Linked DNA regions of Homo sapiens. The protein of the gene in region 2 purifies or fractionates together with the protein of the main gene of each other region. This does not show direct contact. Each region holds a gene or a part of one and is shown on either strand. Other genes may lie near its edges.

Region 1 (5,460 bases), on a different chromosome or scaffold from region 2:
TGCTGCCTTTCTGCAAAATGAATTGTAAAGTTAAAAGAGCCTTCTTCTAAGTGGTTTTCTCAGTTTTTAGAGACTTCTTCACTATCACTGAGAACAATTCCTACTTCCTTACAGTTCTTTTTTTTTTTTTTTTTTTTTTTTGAGATGGAGTCTTGCTCTGTCGCCTAGGTTGGAGGGCAGTGGCGTGATCTCGGCTCACTGCAACCTGTGCCTCCCAGGTTCATGTCATTCTCCTGCCTCAGCCTCCCAAGTAGCTGGACTACAGGCACCCGCCACCACGCCCGGCTAATGTTTTGTATTTTTAGTAGAGACGGGGTTTCACCGTGTTAGCCAGGATGGTCTCGATTTCCTGACCTTGTGATCCGCCCACCTTGGCCTCCCAAAGTGCTGGGATTACAGGCATGAGCCACCTCGCCCGGCCTTCCCTACAGTTCTTAAAACTTAATGTAGTTATTCTTGTTTCTGTTGCAGAGACTATCCTCTGGTTAATACAGACTCAAGCTTCTTTGGTGCTAGAACTAAGAATGTTCATGGGTGTAATGGGGCACTCTGCCTCAGTGTGGTAACCTCTGAACTGTCAATGGACATTTGAGGTGTTTCAAATAGTGTGCAGGCATGCCCTCTTGATGCTGGTGCTGTTGCACCTCCACTCTTTTGTGGTCGGTTTTCTTTATTTTATCACAAACATATACTTAAAATTACATAAAAGAAAAAAGTTAGGCATGTTCTTTTTCATGCACATTGGAGACTTTTACTCAAGGTCTTCACAGGTATCTTCAACATCCGGGTCCTTGTTATCACTAGCGCCACTCTTTAGGAGTCTTTAGGAGAGAATTTTTTATCTGACCAGATAATTTAAAAGGTCAGAAAAATGTGGTATTTTTGTTGTTTGTTCCATGACATTACTAACCAGATCTTCACAGAAAAAGAAACAAAACCTCAGGTTGCCATAAAGCTTATCTGCTTTGGTTGTATTTGTCCATAGGGATAATGTTAATAAGTTCTAGCTGTTCTTAGATGGTGGACTGCCTTTTATTTAATGTTTGTATCTAACAAAACAAAAACAAAAACCAAAAAAAAAACCACTTAGACTGGGTGCAGTGTCTCATGCCTGGAATCCCAGCACTTTGGGAGGCTAAGGTGGGAGGATTGCTTGAGCTCAGGAGTTCAAGACTAGCCTGGGCAAGATGATGAGACCCCGCCTCTACAAAAAAAAAAAAAAAAAAAATTAGGCTGGCATGGTGACGTGTGCCTGTGGTCCCAGCTACTTGGGAGGCTGAGATCGGAGGATCGCTTGAGCCCAGGAATTTGAGGCTCCAATGAGCTATCATCACACCTCTGTACTCCAGCCTGGGTGACAGAGCGAGACCCTGTCTCTAAAAAGCAATAATAATTAATAAACTTAGAAACTACACATTTTCTGAAATAAATTAAAAAACTGATTTGTTATTGAACCCAAGTATTTATTCACTAGCGTTTCTACTCTGCACGTTAGCTGTGACCATTTGAGGATATCCAGAAACCAAAAGCTGCACAGTCTCATTTGTGTGTTGTTAGGTCTCCTCCTACAGTATCCTTGCTAGAGATATTTCCTTTTACTTACGGGCTTTCTGTGGCTAATGTTTGTAATCCAGGGTAGGGACAGATCCTTCATTTTGCAACTTGCAAGTATCCTATTTATTAGCATTTTGTTAAGTGTAAATTCCCGTGCCATTTAGCCAAGTACATTAGAATTTTGAGCTGCAGTCATTTCAGGATGTGTTCAGCCTCTGCATCCTGAATCTGTTAGGGGTTTGGATTCCTCACTGGTTGAGCAGCAGTATTACTGTTGGTGCTTATGAAACTGGTGTATCAGCTACTGGTCTGAGAAAATTATTCCAAGTTAGCATTATTCCAAGTTGCTCTTTTGAGTATGGTAGCCACACTTACTAGGGAATGAGAGGGAAGTTTTCACTTTATACCCCTCTTTCTTACTTTCTCTTTATCTCTTTCCCTTTTTGCTCGAATTCATTCACGTGCTCTATTTTTCTTTCTCTTTCCTTCACTTTCCTTGTCTCACTGTCCTTCTTTCTTAACAATAAGCATGTGTTACCTCAGTAAAAAATAAACATGCTGGGTGTCATGGCTCACACCTGTAATCCCAGCATTCTGGGAGGAAGCGGGAGGATCACTTGAGCTCAGAAGTTTGAGACCAGCATGGATAATATAGTGAGACCTCGTATCTACACAAAATTTAAAAATTAGCCAGGCGTAGGCTGGGCACGGTGGCTCACGCCTGTAATCCCAGCACTTTGGGAGGCCGAGGCAGGCGGATCATGAGGTCAGGAGATCGAGACCATCCTGGCTAACACGGTGAAACCCCGTCTCTACTAAAAATACAAAAAAAAATTAGCCGGGCTTGGTGGCGGGCGCCTGTAGTCCCAGCTACTCGGGAGGCTGAGGCAGGAGAATGGTGTTAACCCGGGAGGCAGAGCTTGCAGTGAGCCGAGATCGTGCCACTGCACTCCAGCCTGGGTGACAGAGCGACACTCCATCTCAAAAAAAAAAAAAAAAAAAAATAGAAAATGGAGATGTTATCATTAACATAATTCTTAACAGTATCATTTGACTTGTTTGTGAATGCTATGACCTCGGATTGCGATTCTGTTACTTAGTTCTCTTTCATAATCTTTGCTTTTCAAAAACAGGTTGTTAAGAGAGAGGACATTCAGCAGTTCTTTGAAGAGTTTCAGTCAAAAAAGAGAAGAAGAGTGGATGGGATGCAGTATTACTGCAGCTAGAGTGGAGTATGAAGCTTTCTCATTCAAGCCAATGAAAATGCGCTTCCCATTCTTGGAATAAAAGAGGTGTGGTTCACATTTGGCCCCCTTTCCGTCCTCCTCTGTTTGGAGAGGCCTCGCGCTCCCTTCATTCTCTTTAGCTGCAGTAGCCACCGTGTGGATGCTGACTTCACAGCCAGCGTCCTCTGTGACTCAGCTGATGCAGCTCATTCCACAGACTTCTCCAGTGTACTCCTACTCCAGTGCACCCAGGGTTATTTGCATAGTTTTTAAGTTTGATTTTGTTTTGAGAAAGCAAATTGGTGTCTTGTTTAATGATCTGTTATTTCACTCCCAGATGTGTGTGTTTTGCCACAGAGCTGTTGCCTTCCAGAACCTCCTCCGCAGGCATCACGGAAGGCTCTCTTCCCGTCACCTAGAACCTCTACAGGTCCCCTCGCCCCTATGATCGTGGTGCCTTGGGTCAAAGCTTCCTCAAGCCTGGTCTGCTCCTTCTTTCACGTCCCTGTTTTCTGAGGTTTGGTCATAGCTTAGAAAGGATCTTGGGGCTTGTTTTCTCTAGGCCCAACCTCCAGAGTAGCCAGGACTGATGGTTTTCTGGTCTGGATGTCTGTCACAGGCGGAGAGATTAACAGATGACAGGGTTGAGGAAGCAAGCCTTTGTTATGAATTTTACTAATACAGTTCAAGTGAAATTTTCGTTCATGATTCTATTGGCACTAGAATTAGAATTTCAGTACTGTAGTGCTCACAGGGCTTCCTGGAGAACATTTGCCCGTATACTAGTCCCTTCTCTGCTGCCTAGAAAACAGACCGGGTCTCACCCCTGTGAAATCTTGGTGGTTTACGAAGTCCTCTGGATTTCTTGATATTATCAGGGATATTCATAAGCATATATCAAAAATGGACCTATTTTGATATTCTGTTATGAAAATGTTATTAGAACCCCAATAAATTATTATTTTTCCCCCTTGAATCTGCTAAAGAAAACAGATCCTGACTTAGCTTACTTGAAATAAGCAGGGCAGGGAGCCCTGTTTTGGAAGAGACAGACTGTGGAAGAGATTACAAACAAGGCCCGAGGCTGCACGAATGATGAGTTTTGTGTATATAATGTTAATGTCCACCGCCACTTCCCTAACGACTATGAGATCTTTTTTTTGAAGATCCTCATGGAAGGTTGTACAGAGCCCCACATTTGAGGGGAAGTCCTTTCAGTTGATATGAGATCTCTTTAACACCCCTCAGTCTATGTAGGAAATGCCTTGTGATACATAGAGAACCCTCAGCTTCTCTCTGCCTCTGGAGGACCAAGGTCTTTCCTGACAGTCGGAGACACACCTTGATGTATGTTAATAAAAGCATTTCAGGCTGTGGGGCCACCATGTATATTAATACTCCTTATGTGTCCAGCATCTGTGTATTCATTCGAGTGCCCAATCCCTGGATGAGATGAACTAGGCCTTATAAAAAGTCAAAGCCTCAAAGAAATGGCACAACCATGTTCTTCGGCACTCAGGCTCCTAATTGCAGATCCTCACGAAGGGTGGTATGTGGAGCTGGAAGGTCTTGTGGCCACAGGACATGCTGGTGAGCCCTGAGCTGGCCTTGTGCAGAGGGCTCCGTTCAAAGGCTCGGGGTGTCTTTGAGGTTGTTTATCAAGCTGGGGAACTCTTCCAAGTCTGACAATGTTTCGAACCCTTTTTGCAAGGTTGCACTATTAGTATACCATCATGTCCGGAAAACTTTTAATCTTCTCAAATATCTGATGTAACTACCAGAAAGTCCCTTACTTCCTATGACCAATCAGGACCAAGTCTTGGAGGTGATGTGTTACATTACGTGCAGCACAATAGTACCGATCAGTTAACTCAGCGCTGAAGGGCTTGTTTTATGAAAGGTACTATTCCTTCTTTCACATTAACTGGAAACCTCTTTTTTTACCTGTTGTTCACAACTAGTTTTCTTATTGACTGTATTGGACTGTCTCTTCTTGTAGAGACTGATTTTGGCCAACATATTAATGCATGTTTTATGCAAAACACAAATATGATATTAGTTGCTTTTAAGGAGTTCTGGCATTGTATGTGCATTTTTGTAGAAATTGTTACTGGACTTATAATTACATACTTAACTCTGATCAGGTTTCTGTAAAATTTAAATAAAACCAATACAAAATAGTTGCTTTTCAGATTGTTTTTAGTATATTTAAGTCTACACAGCCTCCCTCTGCAGGTTTTAAGAAAATGCAGGCAGGGCGCGGTGGCTCACGCCTGTAATCCCAGCACTTTGAGAGGCCGAGGCAGGCAGATCACGAGGTCAGGAGATCGAGACCATCCTGGCTAACATGGTGAAACCCCATCTCTAATAAAAATACAAAGAATTAGCTGGGTGTGGTGGCGGGCGACTGTAGTCCCAGCTACTCGGGAGGCTGAGGCAGGAGAATGGCGTGAACCCGGGAGGCAGAGCTTGCAGTGAGCCGAGATCACGCCACTGCCCTCCAGCCTGGGCGACAGAGCGAGACTGTCTCAAAAAAAAAAAAAAAAGAAAAAATGCATAGAGCCGGGCATGGAGGTTCACGCCTGTAGTCCCAGCTACTTGGGAGGCTGATGCAGGAGGATTGCTTGAGCCCAGGAGTTGGAGGCTATAGAGTGCCGTGGTTGCACCTGTGAATAGCCAG
Region 2 (8,879 bases):
TTTGAGATGAAGTCTCACTCTGTGGCCCAAGCTGGAGTGCAGTGGCGTGATCTTTGCTCACTGCAACCTCCGCCTCCTGGATTTAATCAATACTTGTGCCTTAACCTCCTGAGTAGCTGGGACTACAGGCGTGTGCCACCACACCCCACTTATTTTTTGTATTTTAGTAGAAATGAGGTTTCACCATGTTGCCCAGGGTGGTCTCAAGCTCCTGAGCTCAGGTGATCCACCTGCCTCGGCCTCCCAAAGTGCTGGGATTACAGGTGTGAGCCATCGTGCCTGGCTCCAAATTATAGCATATTTCATACGTATATATACATTTTAGGATGGTTTGACTTAGGATTGATACATATTTATACAGTACAAGTGTTTTCAGATATAGTATCTCATTTGATCTTTTTACTAACCCTGTAAGGAAATTACAAGGGCAGATATTATCAATCCTATTTTTAAAATGAGGAAACAGATTTAGAAGGTAAACAGTTTAAGGGGACTCAACTTATAAGTTGCGGAGCTAAAAGCAGTTTCTACCTTATACAGATGATCCCCAACTTTACAATGGGTTTACCAGTACATAAGCCAACATAAACTGAGGAGCTCCTTACGACTTATGATGGGGTTACCCATCATAATGTTGAAAAATCCTACGTTGAACCATCCTAAATCGGGGATCCTCTGCTGTGTTGTCAGCAATAAATCCATTTTCAACTTACACTGGGTTTATCGGGACATAACCCAATCGTAAGTTGAAAAGCATCTGTACTCTTTTCAGTAGATCTTTCAGATTCACTTTTCTGGATTTGTTGAAAAAGAAATTATATAAAAATAGGCCAGGTGCGGTGGCTCACACCTATAACCCCGGCACTTTGGGAGGCTAAGGTGGGTGGATCACTTGAGGTCAGGAGTTCAAGACCAGCTTGGTCAACATGGTGAAACCCCGTCTCTACTAAAAATACAAAAATTAGCTGGGCATGGTAGCGCTTGCCTGTAATCCCAGTTACTCGGGAGGCTGAGGCAGAAGAATCGCTTGAATCCAGGAGGCGGAGCTTGCAGTGAGCCGAGATTGTGCCACTGCACTCCAGCCTGGGTGACAGAGCAAGACTCCATCTCAAAAAAAAAAAAAAAAAAAAAAGTATATATATATATACACACATACACACACACACACACACATAAAATACTTACACTTCTGGCAAACTTCTGGCTGACAGATAACTGGTTTTACAAAATCTTACTTCTACCTAATCGAAAGAATGGCCTAGCCTCAAATGAGACAGCAACGTGGTACTTCAGGCAGAATAAAGTACAATCAATTACACATATACTATGAACATTGATAACACAGAAGCCAGTCTGCAGACCACGAGGAGTGTTTTAATGTTTTAAGAGTAGTATACTAAACATGCTTAAGAACCACTAGTCTTGAACAATTTTCTGTATATATAATAAATTATACAGATAAATAGTATACAACTTACCTACAATTCACTGTTGATTTTCCACCTTCAAATTCAGAATTCTTCCCCCATCTTTTAGGTAATTCTAATACCATAAGTCCTTTTATTCCTATAAGTGCTACATGATGTTGTGTTGGGCTTAACAAGACTTGATAGATTTCAAACAGGGGTGGATTTATGCAAAGCAATCTCTGAAAATTAGAGCAAACCAGTCAACATAGTTAATTTTAATTTAAATATAGGTGGCAGTTACTTGAAATCACAGTAATACTTAGTTTACTACAATTATAGGATAATAAAACTCTGGATAAGTACTCACACTTGTACCATTAACTCACAAATTTTTTTTTTTTTTTTTGAGACAGAGTCTTGCTGTCACCCAGGCTGGAGTGCAGTGGCAGCCCACTGCAGACTTTACTATGGGGGTTCAAGTGTCCTCCCCACCTCAGCTTCCAGAGGAGCTGGGACTACAGGTGTGCACCATCACTCCCAGCTAATTAAAAAGGTTTTTTTTGTAGAGATGGGGGTTTCGTCATGTTGCCCAGGCTGGTCTGAACACCTGTTCCCGTGCTCACAAGATCCACCTGCCTCCACCTTGGCCTCCTAAAGTGCTGATTATAGGCTACAGCTACCACACCCAGCTTACTCATGCTTGCTTTTAACATCCAAAGTTACAACTCATGATAAGCTGCTTTCTTCCCCATCTCTAAGGTTTTGAGATTTTGGAGGAGTGAAGGTTATTGAGATAGTCACCAATATTTACTGAAAGCTTATAAATTCTGGGCACTCCAGCATTTCTGTATGCTGGACATACAAAAATAAGTAAATAGCCAGGCGTGGTGGCACATGCCTGTAGTCCCAGCTACTTCCAGGCGCTGAGGTGGGAGGATCACTCGACCCCTGACAGTAGAGGCTCCAATGAGCCGTGATCACACCACTGCACTCCAGCCTGGGCAACAGAGAAAGACCCCATTTCAAAAATAAAAAATAAAATACGTTTTTAAAAAATGACAAGGGCAGACCCAGCCCCTGCCTTGGAGCTTACAGTCTAGAAAAGAAGACAGAGGCAGAGTGCCATGGCTCACGGCTGAAATGCCAGCACTTTGGGAGGCCAAGACGGGTGGATCACCTGAGGCCAGGAGTTCCAGATCAGCCTGGTTAACATGGTGAAACCCCGTCTCCACTAAAAATACAAAAAGTAGCCGGGTACGGTGGAGTGGGCCTGTAATCCCAACTACTCAAGAGGCTGAGGCAGGAGAATCGCTTGAATCCATGAGGTGGAGGTTGCAGTTAGCTGAGATTGCACCACTGCACTCCAGCCTGGGCAACAGAGCGAGATCCTGCCTCAAAACAAAACAAAACAAAAACAGCCGGGCGCAGTGGCTCACGCCTGTAATCCCAACACTTTGGGAGGCCAAAGCCAGCAGATCACGAGGTCAGGAGTTCAAGACCAGCCTGGCCAACATGGCGAAACCCCGTCTCTACTAAAAACACAAAAATTAGTCGGGCGTGGTGGCAGATACCTGTAATCCCAGCTACTCGCGGGGGGGGCTGAGGCAGAAGAATCGCTTGAAACTGGAAGGTGGAGGTTGCGGTGAGCCGAGATGGCGCCATTGCACTCCAGCCTGGGCAACAAGAGCGAAACTCCATCTCAAAAAAAAAAAAAAGACACAAAATAATTATAAATAATTAAGTTATGATTATGTCAAATGCTACACAGCAGTATAGAATGTTATTAGAATACTGCGTGCTGCACATTTGGTAATTATTATTATTTTTTGAGACACAGTCTTGCTCTGTTGCCCAGGCTGTAGTGCAGGGGCGTGATCTCAGCTCACTGCAACCTCCTCCTCCCAGGTTCAAGCGATTCTCCTGCCTCAGGCACCTGAGTAGCTGGGATTACAAGGGCGCGCCACTACACCTGGCTAATTTTTGTATTTTTAGTAGAGACGGGGTTTCACCATGTTGGCCAGGCTGGTCTCGAATTCCTGACTTCAGGTGATCCACCTGCCTCTGCCTCCCAGTGTTGGGACTGCAGGCGTGAGCCACCGCGCCCGGCCTTCATAATTCTTTTTAACTGAAATTGGGTAAATAAGTAGACTGTAGACTCCTGCCCTATTTTCAAAACTGCAGAAGCATTGCTAGCGTCTTATTAAAATTAAATCACTTCTCGGTAACAAGAATTGGACCGGGCACACAACAGATGTCATACCTTAGAATGAGTACCAAGCTCTTTTTCATCTTTAAGAGAATCTGTGTATTACAAATAAACATTTCCATAAACCAATATTTGACCACGGCAAGTGTGTAATACTTTCTGGATCACACCCATTTTCACATGCTGTCGGCTAATCAAAAACAAAAATCCCCATTTTGGGTATGGCTTTATTTTCTAAAGCGGGCGTTACGGGGGTAAGAATTAACAGAGACTTCCTCCTCCATGTCAAGCATGAAGCGTGGTGCTTTGAAACCTGCAACCTGACTTGCTGTGCACAACGCAAGAGAAAGTTACGATCTAACCTATTATAAGCGTCACATCAGGAAACAGGTTTCTCTCGACGAAACTAAAAATAGCAACTCCGCCCACTCGTTCTCAACCCCTTTAGCCCGCTTTGTTTTTCTCCAGAGCACTCATCCGTCACTAGTATTTTTATTGAATATTCAATGACCCTTTCCTTCCTCCCAGGCCTCCAGGCCGTAAGCATCGAGAGAGCCTGAGTCCCCGCGACCGCGTATGGCAGCGTCGGAGTCAATCCGCTGGAACGCCTGCCACAAGATGAAAAACAGCCAAGAGGAGCAAGGAACAAAAAAGACTGGTTCCGATCCCGGTGAGGGTCACTTCCAAGATCGGCCTGGCATTACCTGGTACTGGGACAGGGCGGGCTCTTCGCCGCCGCCGCTGGGGCCCCGAAGGCGAACGACTAAGAAGGAGCTGTCTTCTCCGTCCCACAGGAAAAGCTCTCCGCCGAGGCCAAAGACCACGTTTCTCGTCAGCAACTGCGGCGGCGGCGACGAAGGCAACGACGAAGAAGCTGGTTTCTCAGCTTCGGTTGGACTCTGGTTTTTCAGTCCCTCCCGGAGCCGCAAGAACACGACGTGGTTAGGAAGCCAGGTCTGCCACAGCTCGCCGTCGCCCACCGGTCCCTCGGCGGCCGCCATCTTGGCCCAACTGCTCCCCTCACTCCAGTTGCTCAGCCCGCCGCTGAGCACAGCCAATCCGCGGCCGTCCACTCACTGTTTCGGCCAATCACCGAGCAGACGGCCCGGAAGCTCGAGAGGCTCGTGCCAGGTCGGGGGGCGAAGGCGAGGCCAGCCCACCAAGCAGGGGCGTCACCAAGGGAAAGCCAATCACCATTATTTCTGAAGCCCAAGGGGGCGGGACGAGAAGTCAACATAATGGTGGTGCTGCTGGAAATCTAGCACCTGGGGAGAGCCTGAGACTTGTGTATCTAATTGCCTATTGGACACCTCCATCTGGGTAAACCCAGGCATCCAGAACTTTCCCTCAAGACTTACCTCCCTCAGTGCAGGTCGGGCTGGCCTCACGCATTTCGCTTGGATGCCTAAATCTGTCTCCACGTGGGGCCGGTCGATAAAACAACACTTCCCAGAATACGCTGCGATCCATTCGCGGTCTGCACCCGGAAAGTACACCTCCCAGGGGTCTGTGCGCGCCTCCAGGGAACGGGTCTTGTGGCTTTGTCTCCCGCGAAGAGGAGATGGCGGAGTCGTTGAGGTCTCCGCGCCGCTCCCTGTACAAACTGGTGGGCTCGCCGCCTTGGAAAGAGGCTTTCCGGCAGGTGGGTATGGGGTTTGTGCAGTGGTCTACCCTAGATCGTCCCGGTGACCGCCGTCTTCCCTGCCTTCGCCTTAGCCCTGCTCCGTGGAGCAGGTGCCGCAGCGCGCCTGGTCTGGTCAAACCCAGGCCTGCTGACTGTAGAGTGTGGGATTAGCCCGGGTCGGTCAAGTCCTAGAAAGCCTTGTTTTTGGATTCGATTTTGTTTTGAATTTAAATTGTGGTCAGGACATCACCGTTTGCACCTCTGCAATAACACTACCTACTGTTGCTGCGGAGGTGGCCACCGAGAGAGGCACTTTGTCTACGTTCGTCTTGTGAGATAGAGATGATTTCTATTCTAGAGAGTAGTAAAATGAGGCTTAGAAGAGGGCTCCACCTCAGTTCTGGCCTCTTCTGAACACAGTGTGGTTATTAGTAAGTAATGTCCAAGAAAGTAACCCGACGCAAGAAAGATAGCAGATACAGCAGAGTTTCTCAGCCTTGACAATGGACATTTTGAGGGAGATATTTATATGTTGTGGAGGGTTGTTTAAGCCACGTCTCGGGCCTCCACCCACTAGATGCTAATAGTCCTATAACTAGAATTGTGACAACCAGAAATGTCTCCAAGCATTGCCAAATGTTCCTTGGGGGACAAAACCTCCCTGAGTTCAGAAACGCTGCTGTGCAGGAAGGCCGTTACCCAGCCATATCTAGAGTAGCAAGAATTTGGAAGGAATATAAATGTTCTGTAATAGGACATTGGATGCTGAGATATTATGCACACAACCATTAAGGAAACTGGCAAGCTAGAATAAAAAATATGGTTCTTTGTAAATACGTGTACAAAGCATTGTAATTTTATGTATCTCTACAGAGGAATATGCAAAAGTAACACTAGTTAGTATTATCATTGAAATTTTGTGTCTATAAACTTTCTTTAATGTTTTCTCAACTAATGTAAGAGTGTTTTTTAAAAATAGAAATGCTTTTTTTTTCCCCCCCAATCTTGCTCTTTTTTCCCAGAGATGCCTGGAGAGAATGAGAAACAGCCGGGACAGGCTCCTAAACAGGTACCGCCAGGCTGGAAGCAGTGGGCCAGGGAATTCTCAGAACAGCTTTCTAGTTCAAGAGGTGATGGAAGAAGAGTGGAATGCTTTGCAGTCAGTGGAGAATTGTCCAGAAGACTTGGCTCAGGTCAGGCTGGGCTATGTGTTTTCAGGGAGGGGGACTGCACCACCAAGAACGGCTCGTGTCCTCTTTTATTTGTTTACTTGAGTCCTCTAAACCCACCATTCCCCTAACCCCATTTAGAATTCAACAGCCTTTAACCCAGGCTTTTCTACACTTAATGTTAGACTTGTCTAGATGAAATGGTCTGAAATACCAGACCGTAGACCTGCTCATCACTGCAACATCATCATTTATGAAACTAAAAAGAAAGAAATTTCATTTCTTGCCTCCACCCTTGGAAATTATGATTCAGTAGGCATAGGCTAGGAATCTCTTTCTCTCCCTCTCTCTCGCTCTTTTTTTTTTTCTGTCTTGCTCTGTCGCCCAGGCTGGAGTGCAGTGGCAAGATCTCGGCTCACTGCAACCTCCACCTCCTGGGTTCAAACGATTCTCCTGTCTCAGCCTCCCAAGTAGCTGGGATTACAGATGTGTGCCACCATGCCCGGCTAATTTTGTTTCTGTTTTAGCAGGGATGGGGTTTCACCATGTTGGCCAGGCTGGTCTTGAACGCCTGACCTCTAGTGATCTGCCCACGTCAGGAATCTCTTTCTAAAAAGGTCTCCAGAAACTTTCCGATTCTAATCTCAGCCAACGTTGGCAGCCATGTGTGGAAGGGAAAACCATTTATAGTGTATCAGGAAGAACACTGGATTCGAAGTCAGGAGTTCCAGAATTCAAATCCTGGTTTGGCTATTGACTGTTAACTTCAGTTTGCCTCTTTGAGGTTTAGTTTTCACATTTATAAAATGAGAAGATAATGTTTTCAGCATTGTAAGGACTGTGTAAGAAAATGTGGGCAACTGTTTGAAACCATCAACACCCTGTGTAATAATGATGCATTATTCAGTGGCTTTTGTGTGTCCTGCAGTACACCAATGTTTGCCTTATATCACCACAACTAGTACTCACAGTAACCCTCTTAGATAGATTTTATTCCCACTTTACAGAGGCCAAAACTGAGATTTGCAGAGATTAGGAACTTTTCATGTGGTTACGTAGCCTTGGAAGAATATGTACCTAACTGCTACCCTATATCGTCTCTCCAAAATTGGGTACCATTATTTTGTCACTGGATAGTTGGATCATTTGTTGATGGCTTGTCAGCATGACAGCATTACCCCACTGTCAGCATATTCTGCAGGAGGACTGGACTGATTTTGTCCAATAAATCTGGGTTCTTCAAGCCAGCCTCCAAGTATGAATCACTGTGGGGCTTGGTTGGTGATTAATACTTCAAACTTCTGATGCCGCTCCTTTCTCTTCCAGCTGGAGGAGCTGATAGACATGGCTGTGCTGGAGGAAATTCAACAGGAGCTGATCAACCAAGGTAACCCCTAGTGGTAGTCCTTCCTTACCTGTATTTAGCTACTGGAATACTGTGACCTTTCCTCCAATCAGGATTAGTTTATAAGTCCCCTTTGTCTACCTCCATCAGTCAAGTGTCCAAAAGACTCCTTTTGTACTCTGACATCTTGGCTGTCTAGCTTCTCAATAATAAGGGTCTCCAGGGTGCTAGACCTTGTGCTAAGAACTTCTCATTTAATGATGCTGTTTTCTCCATGTGACTGCCCTGTAAGATAGTAGTATTAGAACAGAAGGTGGTTGGTGTTCTCGTGCAGGTCATACAGCTAGTAAGTGGAGGAGATGGGAAGCAAAATCAGTTGTATGAATCCAGTTCCCATGTTTCTTCTACCATCCTGCCTCTCTATTAATGGGTTAATAGTTCACTGAGGGTGGTGGCTTATGCCTGTAATCCCAGCATTTTGAGAGGCTGAGGCAGGAGTATTGCTTGAGGCCAGTTCAAGACCAGCATGGGCAACATAACAAGATCCTGTCTCTACAGAAGTAAAAAAAAAAAAAAAAAAATTATCTGGGTGTGGTAGCAAATACTTGTAGCCTCCCTCAGCCAGAAGGCTTAGGCAGGAGGATCACTTGAACCCAAGAGTTTAAGGTTACAGTGAGCTATAATTTTACCACCTCACTCCAGCCTGGCTGACAGAGGGAGACCCTGTCACTTTAAAAAATAAAATAAAAAAAAGTAAACCTGCCATTTTACAGGATACAGTGATAGTGCATGGTCTGATCCCTTGCCCTATTCATTTTAAGTGCCACATTCTCTATTAACTCCCCAGGGCCTGTGAGCATCCACTCCTTGAGGGAGGTGTCCATAGCATGGTGTAGAGAGCATAATTTTGTACCTTATATAGTTAAGTCATTTATTCCATGTAGCCCTGATTTGATTAGGCCTTGTTTGGTTTTTGTTTTTGTTTTTTTTGAGACAGGGTCTCTGCCCAGGCTGGAATGCAGTGGCGTGATCACGGCCCACTGCAGCCTTGACCTCCTGGGCTTAAGCGATCTTCCCACCTCAGCCTTCTGAATAGCTGGGATCATAGGCGTGTGCCACCACCCCT

The links. The genes of interacting proteins can lie anywhere in the genome.
Region 1: the proteins of RPAIN (region 2) and UBR7 purify together in Homo sapiens (affinity purification with mass spectrometry; 2 studies listed by BioGRID and IntAct, with this or other methods). This does not show direct contact.

What each region holds. Positions count from the first base shown.
Region 1 is NC_000014.9:93,224,256-93,229,715, forward strand, and holds the end of UBR7 (putative E3 ubiquitin-protein ligase UBR7), read left to right. Parts: intron 1-2,687; coding exon 2,688-2,780; 3' UTR 2,781-4,960; downstream 4,961-5,460. UniProt on the Homo sapiens protein: E3 ubiquitin-protein ligase which is a component of the N-end rule pathway. Recognizes and binds to proteins bearing specific N-terminal residues that are destabilizing according to the N-end rule, leading to their ubiquitination and subsequent degradation.
Region 2 is NC_000017.11:5,415,035-5,423,913, forward strand, and holds the start of RPAIN (RPA-interacting protein), read left to right. Parts: upstream 1-5,147; 5' UTR 5,148-5,176; coding exon 5,177-5,257; intron 5,258-6,261; coding exon 6,262-6,432; intron 6,433-7,734; coding exon 7,735-7,795; intron 7,796-8,879. Other genes in the region: nuclear pore complex protein Nup88, read right to left, coding at 1,479-1,648, 4,320-4,616. UniProt on the Homo sapiens protein: Mediates the import of RPA complex into the nucleus, possibly via some interaction with importin beta.